Linked DNA regions of Homo sapiens: region 1 is linked to region 2. The links come from fine-mapping of genetic effects on gene expression. Tissue or cell type: whole blood. Region 2 holds a variant in brackets; the other region holds the start of a gene. All regions are shown on one strand. Distances are from middle to middle.

The links. PIP is the estimated chance that this variant, and not a neighbour inherited with it, causes the effect.
Region 1: GRK3 starts here. The variant in region 2 is fine-mapped to the expression of GRK3 in whole blood (TOPMed, PIP above 0.99).

The regions. Positions count from the first base shown.
Region 1 is chr22:25,560,827-25,568,934 of GRCh38, forward strand. GRK3 (G protein-coupled receptor kinase 3) reads left to right here and starts at 3,849. Exons shown (of 21, transcript NM_005160.4): 1 at 3,849-4,327. The coding sequence starts at 4,215. It overlaps GRK3-AS1 (GRK3 antisense RNA 1), which reads right to left and starts at 4,590. Exons shown (of 4, transcript NR_183564.1): 1 at 4,254-4,590; 2 at 3,264-3,533; 3 at 2,477-2,655; 4 at 62-672. RefSeq lists silencers at 3,775-3,874, 4,185-4,434 and enhancers at 4,546-5,061, 6,344-6,523.
Region 2 is chr22:25,637,290-25,645,397 of GRCh38, forward strand. It overlaps GRK3 (G protein-coupled receptor kinase 3), which reads left to right. Exons shown (of 21, transcript NM_005160.4): 3 at 7,303-7,376. Among named protein-coding and RNA genes, the nearest start is that of GRK3-AS1, 76 kb to the left of the region's middle. The variant AG/A (reference allele first, on the strand shown) is at 4,461.

The DNA.
Region 1 (8,108 bases), 76 kb before region 2:
TACTGAACATCGTTTCAGTGCTAATAGCTAATAGTTTAATAAAAGCAAAGCTTGGCATCATACCTTTTGGCAGATCTTTATAAAGTTGTCATACATAGAGCTGCCATTAAAGCTTGTAAAGCTTTGTGGATAAAAGCAGCATGAAAAGCAGTTCATATGATGTGTGTGACAACAAACAGAATTGTGATCCAAATTACAGGTGAAACGGGACAGTGGCCCCTGGGAGGCTAGAAATACCTGCAGAGGCTTACGGAGTGAGATGTTTGTAAATAAAGCCATTCAAACATCAATTGTGTGTGGTTTTCTTGAGAAGCAACTGTATTTAAGGGACTGCTTATACAAAATCAAGTTCTTCTTAGCAAGGATTGCTTTAAATATTCTGACTTGAATGAAGGCCAGTCATGTTCTGCCATTTTCAAAAATCTTCTAACTGGAGTCTTAGAGTTGATTTTCTTTTCATTTGTGATTAATTTTCCAGAATAACATTCCCAGCTCCCACCCCACCCAGCGTTTATAGTCCAGAGATTCTGAGAGTAGGAAGTCTTAGTAAAGCCCAGAATCTAAAACAAATAAGACCAGTCAGTTCTCTAGTTAGCTTTTTTCCTTTCAAGTTGTTAGCAATATAAACTCTGGAAAGCCTAAACTTTAATGCACCCATCTCAGCAACATCTCCTGTAACGATGGAAAGGCATAGAAAAGAAGAAAAGGGAACATTATTAATCTTGTGGGAACGCTGGAGTTTTGTCTATTATCACAAGCAGCGTGAGCCCCAAGTCATTTAAATCCTCTGGGGGTGGGAGACATAATTATTTGCAAGGGAGCATTATTAGCTAAGTACAAATGGGTTGCTATTTGTTTTTTCTGTTCTTTGTGATGATTACAGGCTGGGGATGGTGTTTAGTAACAGGATCCAGCAGGTCAGTTATGACAACTTCATCATCACTGTCATTAACCCCTTTTGTTTGCAGTGAACACAAAAAGCTGTTCAGTATCAAGAGAGTCAAGAAAAAGGGAAAGAAGAGGGGGTGGAGAAAGTGAGACAACCAAAGAGACAGCCAGGGAACAGAAATTCATACACTATGAACACCAGAAAAAAATACCCCTGGGTAATTGAGTCAGCTGACTCAAATGGTGTAGGGGCCTCAGTTAGAGGACCAAATTTTGGACTCCTTGGTCTTTCTGCCAAAAGAGTAATTGCTCATGTTTATAGATGCAAATGTTTTTGCCATTTTGGTTCCTAGAAATGCCCTAGGGAGATGTTATTTTTGGTAAGGGGTCTTCCTGCTTCAAGTGTAATGACTGTGAACAACTAGTTTCAGTATCTTCTCTAGCATGCCAGGGTAAAATGAAGCAAAATAAATAGAGGAAGTGCCATGACCTTTATTGAGGATCTACTGGGTGCCAGGCAAAATGCTTTTTTTTTTTTTTTTTTTTTTTTTGAGACAGGGTCTTGCTCTCTTGCCCAGGCTGGAGTGCAGCAGTGCAATCTTGGCTGACGGCAAGCTCTGCCTCCCGGGTTCCTGCCATTCTCCTGCCTCAGCCTCCCAGGTAGCTGGGACTACAGGCGCCCGCCACCACGCCCAGCTTATTTTGTTTTTGTATTTTTAGTAGAGATACAGTTTCATCGTGTTAGCCAGGATGGTCTCCATCTCCTGACCTTGTGATCCACCCACCTCAGCCTCCCAAAGTACTGGGATTACAGGTGTGAGCCACTGTGCCTGCCCAGTGCTGCGATCTCGACTCACTGCAGCTTTCGCTTCCTGGGTTCAAGCGATTCTTCTGCCTCAGCCTCCTGAGTAGCTGGGATTACAGGCGTGCACCACCATACCTGGCTAATTTTTGTATTTTTAATAGAGACATTATTTTTAATGTATTTTTCCTGTTGGCCAGGCTGGTCTTGAACTCCTGGCCTCAAGCGATACACCTGCCTCAGCCTCCCAAAGTGCTGGGATTACAGGTGTGAGCCCCACGCCCGACAAGGTGCATTTTTATGTGCTTTTTCTCCTCTGTCTTCTCAACAACCCTGGGGTAAAAGGCCTCATTTCCACTTTTCCTATGAGAACAATAAAGTAGAAAGAGGTAAAAGACTGCCTCTAAGATCACCCAGCACAGAGCAGGGATTTGATTTCAGGTGTGTCTTGTTCCAAACTTAATATACTGTGCTGCTGGGGGAAAACAAAGAGCAAAAGGTTCTTAACTGAAGTCAAAGACGACCAAGAAAATGTAGGCAGATGTCAGGTCTGATCATGTGGATGCTCAAATGATAAACAGACACATTGAGAGAAATTGTATTAATTAAATCATAAAAATATGTTCCGCTTTTTGGGGAATTTACTCCTCCTCCTGGGGTGACCCTTGACAAGACATTCTGTCTTCCTGTTTTTAAGCAAAAAAAAAAAAAAAAAGTGGGTAGAAGATGAAAGTTTGATATTTCGCTCATGCATAGCTTTGTCTCCTTAATATATTTTGTGCTTGCCTGTCATTTCAGCTTTCTGCTGGCAGACGAAGCTCCTTCAACTGCCATTCCTACTTCTGACACTCCTCTTGTCCTTTTCAGGACAACTTTATGCCTATTGTGCCTTGGGTCTTGAGAAGCATGTGGTAAAACTGGCCAGTGGTGATGGCAGGCATAGCAGGGAATCAGATTGAGGGGGGCTGTGGCGTGGGAGAGAAAACAAAAGAGGGAAACAGGCTATTTGATGACAGAATCAGGCTGCTTCTGCAATGACATTACATGAAATATCTGAAATTTGACCTTAACTGTATCTGGTGGGTCCCGTTAACCCTGTAAGTTATGGACAGAACGTTCACTCAAATTCTAGCAACGTCTAGGCTCATGGAAATACGTGACCAATTCAGGTGAATGAAAGGGATTTTAAAACATTAATTTCCAGCTTAGGTCTTCCTAAGACTGCCTGCGTGTCCCTTACCACCACTCCAGCCTGAGTGTCACATGGATCCTGAATGCGGACTTGTGTGCACACTGTAGAAAAATAAGCAACTGAAAACCCCAGGCATCGGGGTGGAGTGATGATGAAAGACACCGAGACCGAAGATCAGGAAGCTGGAAATTCCCCCCAGCTTCGGTGTTTGGGCTGTATCTCGCTTTTCCACTTCCCTAAATCACCCTCGTGGTGCGAGTGTGCTCGCAGCAGATGCTCCCTAATTGTCTCTTGTATTGACCGTAAAACCCTAACGACAGGAATACTCTCTCTCCTTCTATTTCTCAACACCATTTCAACACCCAAACTAAAACCTCTCACCTGAGTGTAAGGGAGTGGTGACCTTCTTAAGCGGAGAGCTCTTCCATCAGAGGGCTCCCTAAGGGCATCTCTGTTCCTAGCCGGGGAGCCGTCACCCCACTTTGTTCTGCTTAGCCTAAGACACGCAACTTTTTCCAGCTTTTACTCTTCGCTGAATTCTCACGGTGGGGTTGGGGGGATGTTCAGGCTCAGGAGCGAGGTTGGGGGCCCGGCCCGCTGGGCGCTGTTCACCGGTAGCCCGGACCAGAGCAGGAGTTTCATCATTACCTGCTGGGATAGGTGGGACACATGTATTTCCGGGGCCACCCCAGACCTCCCGGAGGATGCTGATTGACACTGTCCAGTTTGAGAACTACTGTGTCCAGGGAGCAGAGGCCTCCCCATAACCCCTTGGGTTGTGGACGTCTGGCCCAGGGCTTCTCTGGGTGAGCGGGGCGGGCATCAGAGCGCGTGGAACCTGGGGCGGGAGGTCGGGGCAGTGAAGGAGGAGGAGAAGGAGGAGGCGGAGACCGAGGGGGAGGGAGGGGAGGAGGAAGAGGAGGAGGAGTCCCTCGTGGCCACCCCGAGGGGAGGGCGACCGTAGAGACTTGGTCGGGAGGCGCCGGCCCAGCGAGGCCGCTGGGACTGTGCACTGAGGGGCGCTGACCGTTGGACGCGCGCTCCCCGCAGACCCTCGCTGAAGGAGCAGGGGGCGGCGCGCGTGCGCGGGGCGCCGGGCGGCGCGCGAGGGGGCGGAGCGGGGAGGCGTGCTGCGACCCCGGCCGGCTACAGCCTGCGGCGCGCGCAGAGCGCTAGTGGGGCGCGCGGCGCGCGCGCGGGGCGGGGGCGCGCGGAGGGGGGGGCTGCCCCGGGGCGGCCCCCCCAGGTCGGGGCGCGGCGGGCGGCGGCGGCGGGCGCGCGTCCCGTCCAGGTCCGGAGTAACCGCCGCCGCCGCCGCCAAAGCTCGCCAACATGGCGGACCTGGAGGCTGTGCTGGCCGATGTCAGTTACCTGATGGCCATGGAGAAGAGCAAGGCGACCCCGGCCGCCCGCGCCAGCAAGAGGATCGTCCTGCCGGAGCCCAGGTACCAGCTGCCCCGGCCGGCGCCGGCCCCAAGCCGCCGCCCCCTGCGGCCGCCAGCTACCCCCTGCTTCCTGGAGGGTCGGGCGCTGAGCCTCCGCTGCCCCGGGGCGGGTGACACAGCGGAGCGGGCGATGCGGGGCCGGCCTCGTCGTTCCAGTCTCTGAAATGGGGCATCGGAGGGCCGGTGGGGGGCACCCCGGGAGAGAGCGCTCCAAAGTGCCCGGCGCGGCGCCCTGCGCGCAGCGAGCGCCCCAGCCAGGGTCTGGTTATGACTTGGCTGGACCAGCTCCATCCCTGTCGCCCCCTCCCCCCAGCCCTGTCCTGTCCTGCCCTGTCCCATCCCCGTGGTTCTTCCTGTTGCATTGGTGTAGTCCCCGTTGGCTCCTTGCCTGTCACTGCTTTGCGCTCCATCCTGGTCGCTCCTTCTTCCCGGGCTCATTGGTCCCCCTTTCCAACTCCATCCTCTCACCTCCCTCTGGGCCGCTTACCTGGGGACTGCAGGCTTGTTGCTTATTGTCCGAGGTAGTTAAACTGCTGTTTTCAGTACTTGCTCTTCTTGAAGTCTATTAAGTCTAGTCACCTTCTTCGGCTTCTCTTCTATTTTGTCCCCGGGCAGGATTTTGACCCACTCAGTATTCTTTTTGGTGCCAAGTGTGTCACCTGAGCTGCTTTCCTCAACTTGTAGATCTACTGGTGGCACTTTATTAAAAAATTGAAACAGGAGTCACTTAAAAAGACACTTGAATGGGTGATTCCAGACAGGAATTTGTTGTTAAATTATCAAAGGAGGGCCCGATTGAATTGGCGAGGGGCTCGGTGAGGTGCATACCAAGTTGCAATTTTCTCTCAAATGATTTATTATTAAGGTACTAGTAAAATTTTTTCTAGTTCATATCATTAGCACTTCCCCAGAAAAAATAGTTTGTCTGGTTAATAGTGAGTTTTAAATAACGTATCAAGGCTTCAGTGATGGATTTTTTTTTCTCTAGCTCCTTTCCTAATTAACACCATCATGAGTTGTACAGCTAATGTGATTCCTTGATGCTAAATAGCTCTTGGAATTGATGCTCAAAAGAGGCATCTTGTTTATGGTGAATTTGAAACCATGCAATTCTGTAAAATATTGGAATCTAAACCAAAGTTATTGTCCATTTGAAATCATCAGTCCTTCAAGCGTTAGGCGCCCAAGATTGCTTAAATGTTACCTAATGCTAAGTGATCATCATCTGATTTTTTTTACAAGTCATCCATGAGCCCTATGATACAGAAAATACCAGTCCCCTTGTTATTTGTTGTGAAAAGCTAAATTGTGCAAATGAAGACATGCTTGCTAGGTATTTTGAGCTTGCTTTTCCTCCTTAGCCCATGCCTCTTGTTGGTTTTGCAGGATGTGCTACTCTTTGATAGACAATGCCAAGTAGTGAAAATGAGGGAAAAGTGCAAACCTTTCTGCAATGTCGTGAGTTTAACACCCCTATTCCAGAGTGTAGCATATCTGAAGCTAATTGAAAAAAATCAATGCTGCTTAAAATTTCCGGCAAATGGGAAACTTACTTAGAGAACAAGAACGCCTACATCAAACCTAAATTTCACCAAAAAAACTGTACATTTCTAATGTGGTAGAAAAAGGCTTAATTCCTCTTTTGTCTTGCCTTTCCTAGTGTCCCTCCACCACCCAAAGGCAGGGAGTCCTAAATATGTAGTATTTCTATATACAAAATTGATAAATCTCAACTCATGGGCAGTTTTTTTTTTGGGGGGGGCTAGTATATAATATTAATAAAGTTAGGAACTTCTGTTCAGTTTTTTTTTTCTTGGTGTTTGGAACTTAATGTGACTTCTGCTTTTTTAGTGTCCCTCTTAAGAACGTACTTATGCACTTAGGGTGTTCACTTCCTTGTATGAATGCCTTTGTTTTTCAGTGGTATTCTTTGGTAATGCTTTCTTTTAAGGCAGAGTAAGTGACAGCCAGCATTATTTCTCATGACATTTGAAAATTGAGAAATACCAACCAGAGAGTAATTTTAGGAAACAGCCCTTCAGTAATTGTTACTCTGTTGCTCTTTTTAAAATAGACTCTCGAATTGGGCCATTGGAACCTCCTCCTGAGATTCTAATTTGTTTTCTACTTATCTTAGTGGCTTTGGCTTTAGTTTTGTAATGTAGCTATTTACATAGTAACAGTCACTCCTTGTGCTGTGTTAGGATTCTGTTACATTGAGATTATCAGGTATAACATCTTGCAAAATTCTCTCTACCACTGGATGGCAGTTAGTGGCCTACCTATTTGATTTGGAGGTTGGGGGTTGGGGAATTTCTAGATCCTGTAAAAAAGTTAATTGCATGTTAAAATGCCCCAGCCTAATGACTTAAATAGCTGGTATGACTTCACACTATTGGTAAAAGGGATACGGGTCAAATGTTTTCTGATAAGTTTCTATTTCAGCTTCATTATAGAGGAAGCCATGTGATCACCAGTTTTTGGTATTCTTGAAAGAGATGTTCAGATTTGTATTTTTGGTATCTGAATGAGAAGCATACATTTTAATTTGCCTTTGGTCTATCACTAGTGATTTTTTTATTTCCAGCAAATTATTTGCAGTCACTATTCTTTGTGCTTCCTTATTTTAGTTACTTTGCCTTTCCCACAGTTTTAAACAGAAGAGCATCAGAACGAAATATCTAGCTAATTTAAATGAAACACTGGGTTTGCAGCTTCCTGCCTATTACAGGAGAGTCTCAGAAAATGGAACATTCTGCCCAGGGGAGATTTTGCTTCCCTGAGATGGCAAGAGGCAAATATTTTGTTATGTTGACACTTTATTCAGTTAACCAACCAATGAGTGCAAATCCTGGAAAAGCTGACTGTTTGTCCAAATGGTATAGCTGCTTTAGTTTACTGAAATGTTGTTGAGCTAATGTAGCTGATAATGGGGCCTACTGGGAGTAGTAAACTGTGACCCACAGCCTCCCTTGCAGGCCCAGTTAAAACAGGAGCATTTAGATGTGCAGGCCAGTTGTTTTACATCATGTTGGAAAAGAAATACTTTTATTTAAGTAAGGTCTAATTCACAAGCAAAGGCCCACAAAGGGTCATCATCTTAAGCCCTGGAGTGATTCAGACGACTTTTACTGTAGGCTGTATTACTCTGTTACTCTTTTTTTTTTAAAAAAAACAGAATGAAATTCAGATGACTTGAAATCACATATAGTTGAAGGCGGTTGAGTAATGTGAACTTCATCTTTCCCCTGGAGTCTTATTTCTATTTACTGGACATTTCAAATGTTGGATCACCTATTGCAAAGCTTGTCCTTTCAAAGTATTCATACAATATGATAGGAAGGTCTGAAACAACATTTTAAAGATTCTTTATAATTTTCTAGGAGCACTGACAGTCCTTAAAGGACATTTATGATACCGTTTATGACATTAATTCAGTACATAGTTGTAGAGCCATTTCTATGAGCCAGGCACGGGGTACTATGACAAACCCAGCCACAGCCCCTTCCTTCATGGAGCTTATAGACTAGTGTGAAATACAAAGATTTGAGCCAAGAAGGATGTTTGCTTTGAAGTGTATTTGCTTGAAGATTTTATTTAACCACAAACAAATAGCGTTTGGATGACTTTTATTACTCTATATGCATAGAATATAGAATAATAAAGAATGAATATAGAATATAGCATAATGCATAGAACACATGATGTTTGGTGTTTTACAATAATTTGTTAGTGATTACCTTTGAAGAACTATCTAAACATAGTCTCCATGGTGATATGG
Region 2 (8,108 bases):
GCTTGCAGACAGCATAGCATGGGACTTCTCGGCCTCCATAATCATGTGAGCCAATTCCTGTAAGTCTCCTCTTACTTGCTTATATGTTTCTCTGGAGAACCCTGACTAATACAGGTACAATGCTGGATGTATCAGTAGTTTGTTTTGTTTTATTGCTGAATAGTATTCCACTGTGTGAAAATATCACAATCTACTTATCTTCCTGTTGATAGTCTTTGAATCATTTCAGATAAGTTATGAATAAAGCTGCCATGAAGATTCCCTATACAAGTCTTTTTGGAGATATAAGTTTTCATTGGATAAGTATCTAATAGAGGAATCACTGCATTGTGTAAGTGTGGGTGTAACTTTATAAAAACTTTCAAGCTATTTTCCTAAGGGACTGTATATTCTTTACCATGCTCCAAATCTATATAATGCAGCATTCTCCAGTGATAGAAAAGTAATAGGATATGTGTATATAGACAGAAAGAGACTTATTGTAAGGAACTGGCTTATGTGATTATGGAGACGGGCAAGTCCAAATCTGCAGTGTGAGCTGGCAGGCTCGAGATCCAGGATAGCTGATGGTGCAGATGAAGTCTGGAGGCAGTCTGCTGGGAAATTCTCCCTTCCCTGGGGCATCTGATCTTTTTGTTCTGTTCAGGCTTTCAGCTGATTGGATGCAGCCCACCTACGTTATGGGGAGCAATCTGCTTACTCGCAGTTTACTGATCTAAATTTTAATCTCATTCCAGGACACTCTCCAAGATGAAATTAACCATCACACATCCACCCCTTGTCATCCTGGTGCTCATACACATCTCCTTACACCACGATTAATCTCCACTAAAGGCGATAACAAGGTCATACTTCCACCTAACATGATACAACTAGTCTGCGTACAATGGAAGATGCATTGACTCTTTTCCCAGAAAAGGATGCAAAGTCCTTGGATGATGTTTGCTCTTTTCTTCGATGTCTTGCAACTTAAATACCATCATGTAAAGTTAACAATATTTAAATGCTACACTAGGAAGTCAGTATGTCTTCTGTTACATGATAAAGGGACAAGAAGTGGAGAAGAAAGCAAAGATATTTGCTTAACATACACACACACAATAAGGGGGAAACACTCATGACAGTTGCAGTCCTCATTCCTGTAACTGGTCACATGGTTGTAGCTGGTATTCCTTACTCCCATGGATTACGTGTTCCCTTTACCATCAGCAAGCACCTCAGTCGGTCATAGTTCTGTACCTGGTGGGATGACTTGAATCATTACTCCTAAAAGGTCTGGGCCATTCATAGCCCTGCCTGAATTGGGTTATAGTTTTCCCTTGACTTTAATCACAGGCCATAGTAATAGTGGGGGGATACCCTAGGAAATCTCCTGTATTCCAGACATGCTTTTCCTTATCTCTCTAGTGTGGATCCCCTTGGCAGTCAGGATCAGTTACTCCAGTCAACACAAGATCTCCCTTCTCTGCCTGCTGATTCAGAGGCATGGGGGACCCAAGGTATTGTCCGTCCTCCTCAGCAACTCATTGGAGTTCTGGCTGCCTTGTATCCCTGCTGGCAGTTGGGGTTGTCAATATTTAACTTAGCCATTCTAGTAGTTGAGAAGGGATATCTTAGAGTGGCTTAATTTACATTTACATGATGACCAATGATGCTGAGTCCCTTTCATGGGCTTACTGGCTGTTTCTATCCCTTTCTTGTGAGGTGTTCCTGTGTTGTGATGTGTTCAAATCTTCCTTGAGTTCTTTTATTGAGTTGTTCTTCTTTTAACATGGATTTGTAAGAATTGTCTTTGTTTGTTTCTTTGAATCCAAATTTACAAGGCATTTTTTCTAACTTAGGTTTTATAATATTTTACCCCAGTCCATGGCTGGTCTATTTTTTAACACTGTCTTTTGAAGAACAGAAGTTCTACATTTTGATAAAGTATAATTTATCATTTCTTTCTTTACCCTGCCTAAGAAATCTTTTGCATAAAGATTTTCTGTGAAGATATTCTATATATATTCTAGAAGCATTATAATTTTAGCCTTCACATTTAGTTCTATGATAATCCTTAATTTAATTCTTTATAAGGTGTGAGGTAACAATTCCTTTCATCTTTTTCCCCATATGGATATCAGCTTTCCCAGCATCATTTGTTGAAAAGACTTAAATTGACTATATAAATGTGGGCATATTCTGGGACCTTATATTTCTGTTCCAGTGATTTAATCTAATGCCACTACATTATATAGCCATATTAATCAATCTAATGTATTGATTAAGATTAGTATGGCTATGTAATGAGTCTTGAAATTGGATAGCGTTAAGGCTTTGAACTTTGTTCTTCTTTCTTAAGATGTTTTGGGTATTCTAGGTTTTTTGCATTTCCATATATATTTTCGAATCAGCTTGTCAGTTTCTTTAAAAAGGCCTGTTGGAGTTATGATTGTAATTGCACTGAATCTACAAATTATTCTGGGAAGAATTAACATCTAAGCAATACTAAATCTTCCAGTCCATGAACTGAGTATGTATTTCCATTTATTTAGATCTTCTTTAATTTCTCTCAGTAACATTTTATAGTTTTTAGCATACTGTTCTTGTATGTCATTTATTTGTTTATTCCTATGTATTGATAGTTCTTTGTTATTACAAATTGACTTGTTTTTAAAATTCCATTTTAAAATTGTGTGCTATGAGTTTATAGAAATTTCATTGGTTTTTATCTAATGACCTTATGTCCTGTGGCCTTGCTAAATTTACTTACATATTCTAGTAGTTACTTATAGATAGGATTTGCCAGGTAGGTAACCAGATTGAATAGAATCAGTTTTAGTTCTTCCTTTTCAATTTGAATAACTGTTATTTCATTTTCTTACTTTATTGCATTGGCTAGGACCTCCAATACAATGTTGAAGAGGAGTGAGATTACATATTGCAGCATTTTCTTATCTGACATGCATTGTATTTTGTTTGTCTCACAGCTCAGAAAGGCCTTACTGACCATTCTGTCTGAAATACATCTTCCTCTTTTTATCATTATCTCAGCATCATACTTAATTACTTTATATTCCTTGTCATAAATTATATGTATTTCTTTGTTGTCTGTCTCTTACACTAATCCGTAAGCGCTTTATTGGAAAAACACTGTTTTCACAATCACATCCTCAGTGAATAACACAGTGGCTCTTAGTAGATACTCAGTAAATGTTTTGTAGAATTAGTCAATATTGGGAGGAAGTTTTAGCAGTTATGCAGTCTATTCTCCTTACTGTCTTAATCTCCTTGGCAAAACTGAGGACAAGTATTTTTTCTTGCAAGAAAATTTTCATATTTCTCTTTTCACCTTTCTAATTTTTAGGAGATTTAATTTCAAATTTTCTCATAGAAACCACTTATATTTAATACTTTCAAAAGTTCTTAACTTACATTTTATAAAAAGCAATACAATTCTTTCTACTAATTTTTGAAAAATTATCGTGATGGCGGGTGTTACATACACTAAAAAGTTAATCAATATTCAGCATTTTGCAGTGGTTCAAATATAGCAACAAAGTAAACACATTTCACAAATATCTACTAAGCAGGTGTTAGGTCACCATTTTTTACTCTTTAAGATCTGGAGAAATTGCAGCGATGAAGTGAACTTGTTAGGCAAAATATTTCCTTATTTTTGCCTCTCATATTTTGCCCTAATCTAGGCCATGCTTCATTTGCTTTTTATATAATTTAAGGCTGATGAAGGTAAGTTGCGTTCAGCCTAGGACACAGTGATCTAGGATTTAGCCAAAAGGCAAATATCTTTCTTCCTGCTGCTCAATTTTAGCAGCTCCATTTAAACAGCTGGTAGAAAGTAAAGCTTCAGTTTATGTGCACATAGGAGGAAAATAATATTTTGTGTTTTCTATTGTGTGTTGAACTAAGTCCTTGGCTTATTCTACTGACCGACAATGGAGATTTCCTTAAATAAATAGGTAAACACATTCTAAGTTGGGTGTTCATTCATTCAACTCCCTCTTTCCCTCATCCCTCCTCTTTCTGTCCTCTTCCTTCCTCCTTTCCCCCGACTTCCCTCCCTCTCCTTGTACCTTTGCTCTTTCTTCTACCTTTCTTCCTTTGTTCTCTCTCCTGAGCTCTGTCTTTGTTACAGTCAATGCTCTTGTGCAAATGTAGTAGAGAATAAAACACCTGTACCCTATGCATTGCAGCTTACATTGTAGTGGGAGAGGTAGACAGTAAAGAAGCAAATATAAACATGCGACAATTTTTGCTCATCGTAAGTGCTACAAAGTGTTTTGTGGTGTGTGTGTGTGAATGGATGCGAGATAGAGACAGCAGGACAGTGAGAATGAATGAGAATCATGAAAGGCCTCCTCAAGGAAAGGGATATGTGAAGTGAGCTAGTGAGCTGTTCATTTAGAAGATCCAGGAAAAGTGTGTGAGGCAGTGGGAATAGCCGGTAAGAAACCCTGAGA[AG/A]GGAATGAGCTTGGTGTCAGAGAAACTACAGTACAGAAGCTTGGCCTAAGTGAAGTGAGCTTGGGGGGAGCACTGTGAGATGAGGCCAGAGAAGGAAATGGTGACTCCAGAGGACGTGGGTAGGCTATGGTGAAGAGTTTCAGTTTGATTCCAAGTGTAGTCAAAAGACAGTGGTCCATGTGTGGTATTATTTCATTTTGTCATTTAGACATTTTGAAAACATCTCTAATTTGATCAAAATACTTAAGTTCAAATTCTCATGTTAGTTTTGTCTTCCAGAAATAGAAAAAGAAATACATGTGGCAAAAACTGACAACATTGAAAAAAGATGAACAAATCTACAATTACAAATGGAGAGTTCAACACTTCACTGTTGATGATGGATAGAATAAATAGACAGATGGCCGCGCGGTGGCTCACGCCTGTAATCCCAGCACTTTGGGAGGGCAAGGCGGGTGGATCACCTGAGGTCAGGAGATCGAGACCAGTCTGGCCAACATGGTGAAACCCCGTATCTACTAAAAATGCAAAAATTAGCCGGCCATGATCGCGGGTGCCTGTAATCCTAGCTACTCGGGAGGCTGAGGCAGGAGAATTGCTTGAACCTGGGAGGCAGAGGTTGCAGTGAGCCAAGATCGCGCCATTGCACTCCAGCCTGGGCGACAGAGCAAGACTCCATCTCAAAAATAAATAAATAAATAAACAGACAGACATTCTGTAAAGATTCAGAGGATGATCTTTTATTTCTATGGATTTAGGGGGTACAAGTGCAATTTTGTTACCTAGATACATTGCATAGTGGTGAACTCTGGGCTTTTAGTGTACATTGTACTCAATCTGTGATTTTTCATGGCTTACTCCTCTCCCATCCTCCTGCCTTTTGGAGTTTCCAGTGTCTATTATTTTACTCCCTATGTCCATGTGTACCCATTGTTTAGCTCCCACTTGTAAATGAGAATGTGCAGTATTTGAGTCTCTGTTTCTGACTGACTTCACTTAGGATAATGGCCTTCAGTTCCATCTGTGTTGCTGCAGAGGACCATCTTGAAGAACTCTATCAAGCCCACTTGGTTTAATTGCCTTTGTATTCTTTTAAATGAAACACTCCACCCTATAAGAACAGAATGCACCCTTTCTTCAAGTGCCATACAGCATTCCGTTAGATAGACCAAAAGTTTCAATGCATTTAAAAGCATTGAAATCATACCAAGCATGTTCTCTGACCACAACAGAGCTAAACAGAAAATCAGTGTCTGAAAAATCCCCAAATATTTTGAAATTAAACTACACCCTTCTGAAGGACTCACGGATCAAAGAAGAAATGACAAGGGAAATTAGAAAGTCCTTTGAAATGAATAAAAATGAAGAGACAACGATTACTCTTAAAATCAGAATACTAACATACGAACAGATAGAGATGTGTATCCTTCCCATTTGCCTGCTTCTTGAATTTCCTACTTCCTGCCTATGTTGGGGTCGTTGCAGTTTCTCCATGGGAGGAGCGTGGCTGTGCTCCTGCTGCAGGTGTGCGCCTGACCCTGGTAAAGTCTGGCTATGCCTATTTAACTAGTACTCTTAGTCATTCTACTCTAGTTTGAGTGAACGAACACTTACCATTTTCAAAGGCCACGTTCCGGGAACTATGAGGGGAATTTATGGATCAGTTACAGACCAGTTCAAGTTACAAGATCCTTATGCTAATGTTAATTAAAATCTCATCACAGCCACTTCCTTTTTCAGTCCCACCTGGGGAATTCTGGTCCACTTCATCTCTACATGGTAGACTTTGTGAGTCTTTCTTCAGTTCCTTTCTGCAGCTTCTGTTTCTGCGAACTCTCCGTTTAATTGTTTTGACTTTTTGGAATTTTATAATCTTCAAGTATCTCTACCTTCAGTCTGGTATCAGCTTGTTCTATTTAATTTTGTTTATCTAGGCGTCACCATTAGGCATTAAGCTAGGCACTAGGTTTTCAAATGGAATGGGAGCCTTATAAATCAGGTAATTAATTAGTGTGTGGTAAATATTTTGACAGAATGTTGGAAAGGCTAAGTAAACATTCATTCAGTGAACATTTATTGGCCACCTACTGTGTACCAGGCATTGTGCAATAGGGTCTGTCTCATCAGAGAAGACTTCAGAGCACAGTTGGCTTTTGAGTCCAATTCTGGTTATTTCAGGAGTTTTCAAGGTACAGAGAGGGGCGTGGTATTCTAGGCAAAGGTGTTTAAAGGTGAGGCTTGTAGTTGTGAAGGAGTAAAGCATGACCTGGGAATGGGTAATCTGCTCTGGCACTAGGTATTCGGTAGGGACTTGGAAATAGTGAGTGAGTGGCAAGAGAAAGGACTAGAAAGGTTTGGGAAGAAAGGACTAGAAGGGTTCTGGTGTTTTTTTTTTTGTTTGTTTGTTTTTTTTTTAGGGAGTTTGGTCCTATTTTAGTGGGCATAGTGTTTATTAGTGTCTTGGTGATTCTCACCAACACATACTGTCTGTATCTCTTATTCCTTTGGTTGTTATTTTGGTCACTACAATGGTCAGCGGCTCCAAGTGGTGGTGGTGAATGCCAGCCCTGTCGTATCATACTTTTGTGGAAAGTGGGGGGCGGGGGTGAACATGAATAGAGAAGGAATCCTGAAGCAAGGAGCCAAGTATGTGGTATTTTTCTGCCTGGAGTATTTCCTTCTAGGAATTAATTAATTCACTAGCTTCTTGAAATCTTTTTTTTAAAAAAAAAAGTAGAGGAGGAAGAGGTTGAGGTATAAACACATTGCTTTGAAAACACCCTTGTGGGATAAAATTTCAATTAATTGCCCACCCTGAAATTTTTTATTTTTTTCCTTTAGGTTTCTTGCTATTTAAAGATTTTTGTTTGAATGAAATTAATGAAGCTGTACCTCAGGTGAAGTTTTATGAAGAGGTAAGAAGTAACTGTTTTACTGATGCTTTTCTTTCAAAAGCATATTTAAACTGTACTTTGGAACATATTAAGACTACTTAATATCTTACAAATATTTAGAAATTCATTGAAAGTAATTAGTAGTGCAAAATATAGTATCAAGTTTGAGATGCTAACAGGTATGAAAAGCTGAGTATGCCATAAAAGTCGCATTCTTAAAGGCTTCAGAGTGCTATGGAAGCAATGAGGGACAGTTGGACTAAAGTTCCAGAGATGGGAGGCTCATCCAGAGCTGCACCAAGGAGGACCAGTTATTTTATTTTCTGTGGAAGCGTGCTAGTTCTGGAGATGTGAGCAGAGGCAGAGGACTGCTACTAGCTTTGAAAGAGATACTAGCCAAGGTTTTCTGGTCATAATGGACTGACAAATTGGAGATTTGGTGGGGGGTGTGGTGGGGTGCTCAAATGCATGACTGATTTTCCCCATAAGAAATTTGGTGAAATCTGAGGTTGGAGGGGAGCTGAAGAGAGAGGCCAGAAACTTCCAGAAGGCACATTGAAATCTCCTACAGCCTTACAGTGCCTAGGAAACACAGACCTGCTGGAGTCTGGAGTCTGAAAACAGAATGGGCGAGAGATGGAAACTCTAGAAGATGTGGTCTGGTGACATTGGGTATCTACAGCTACTTTTCACCTAGGGTTTCTGTTGATTTCAGGTGTAGCAGGCAGATGGGCATCCAGGCTTGGCTGCTTC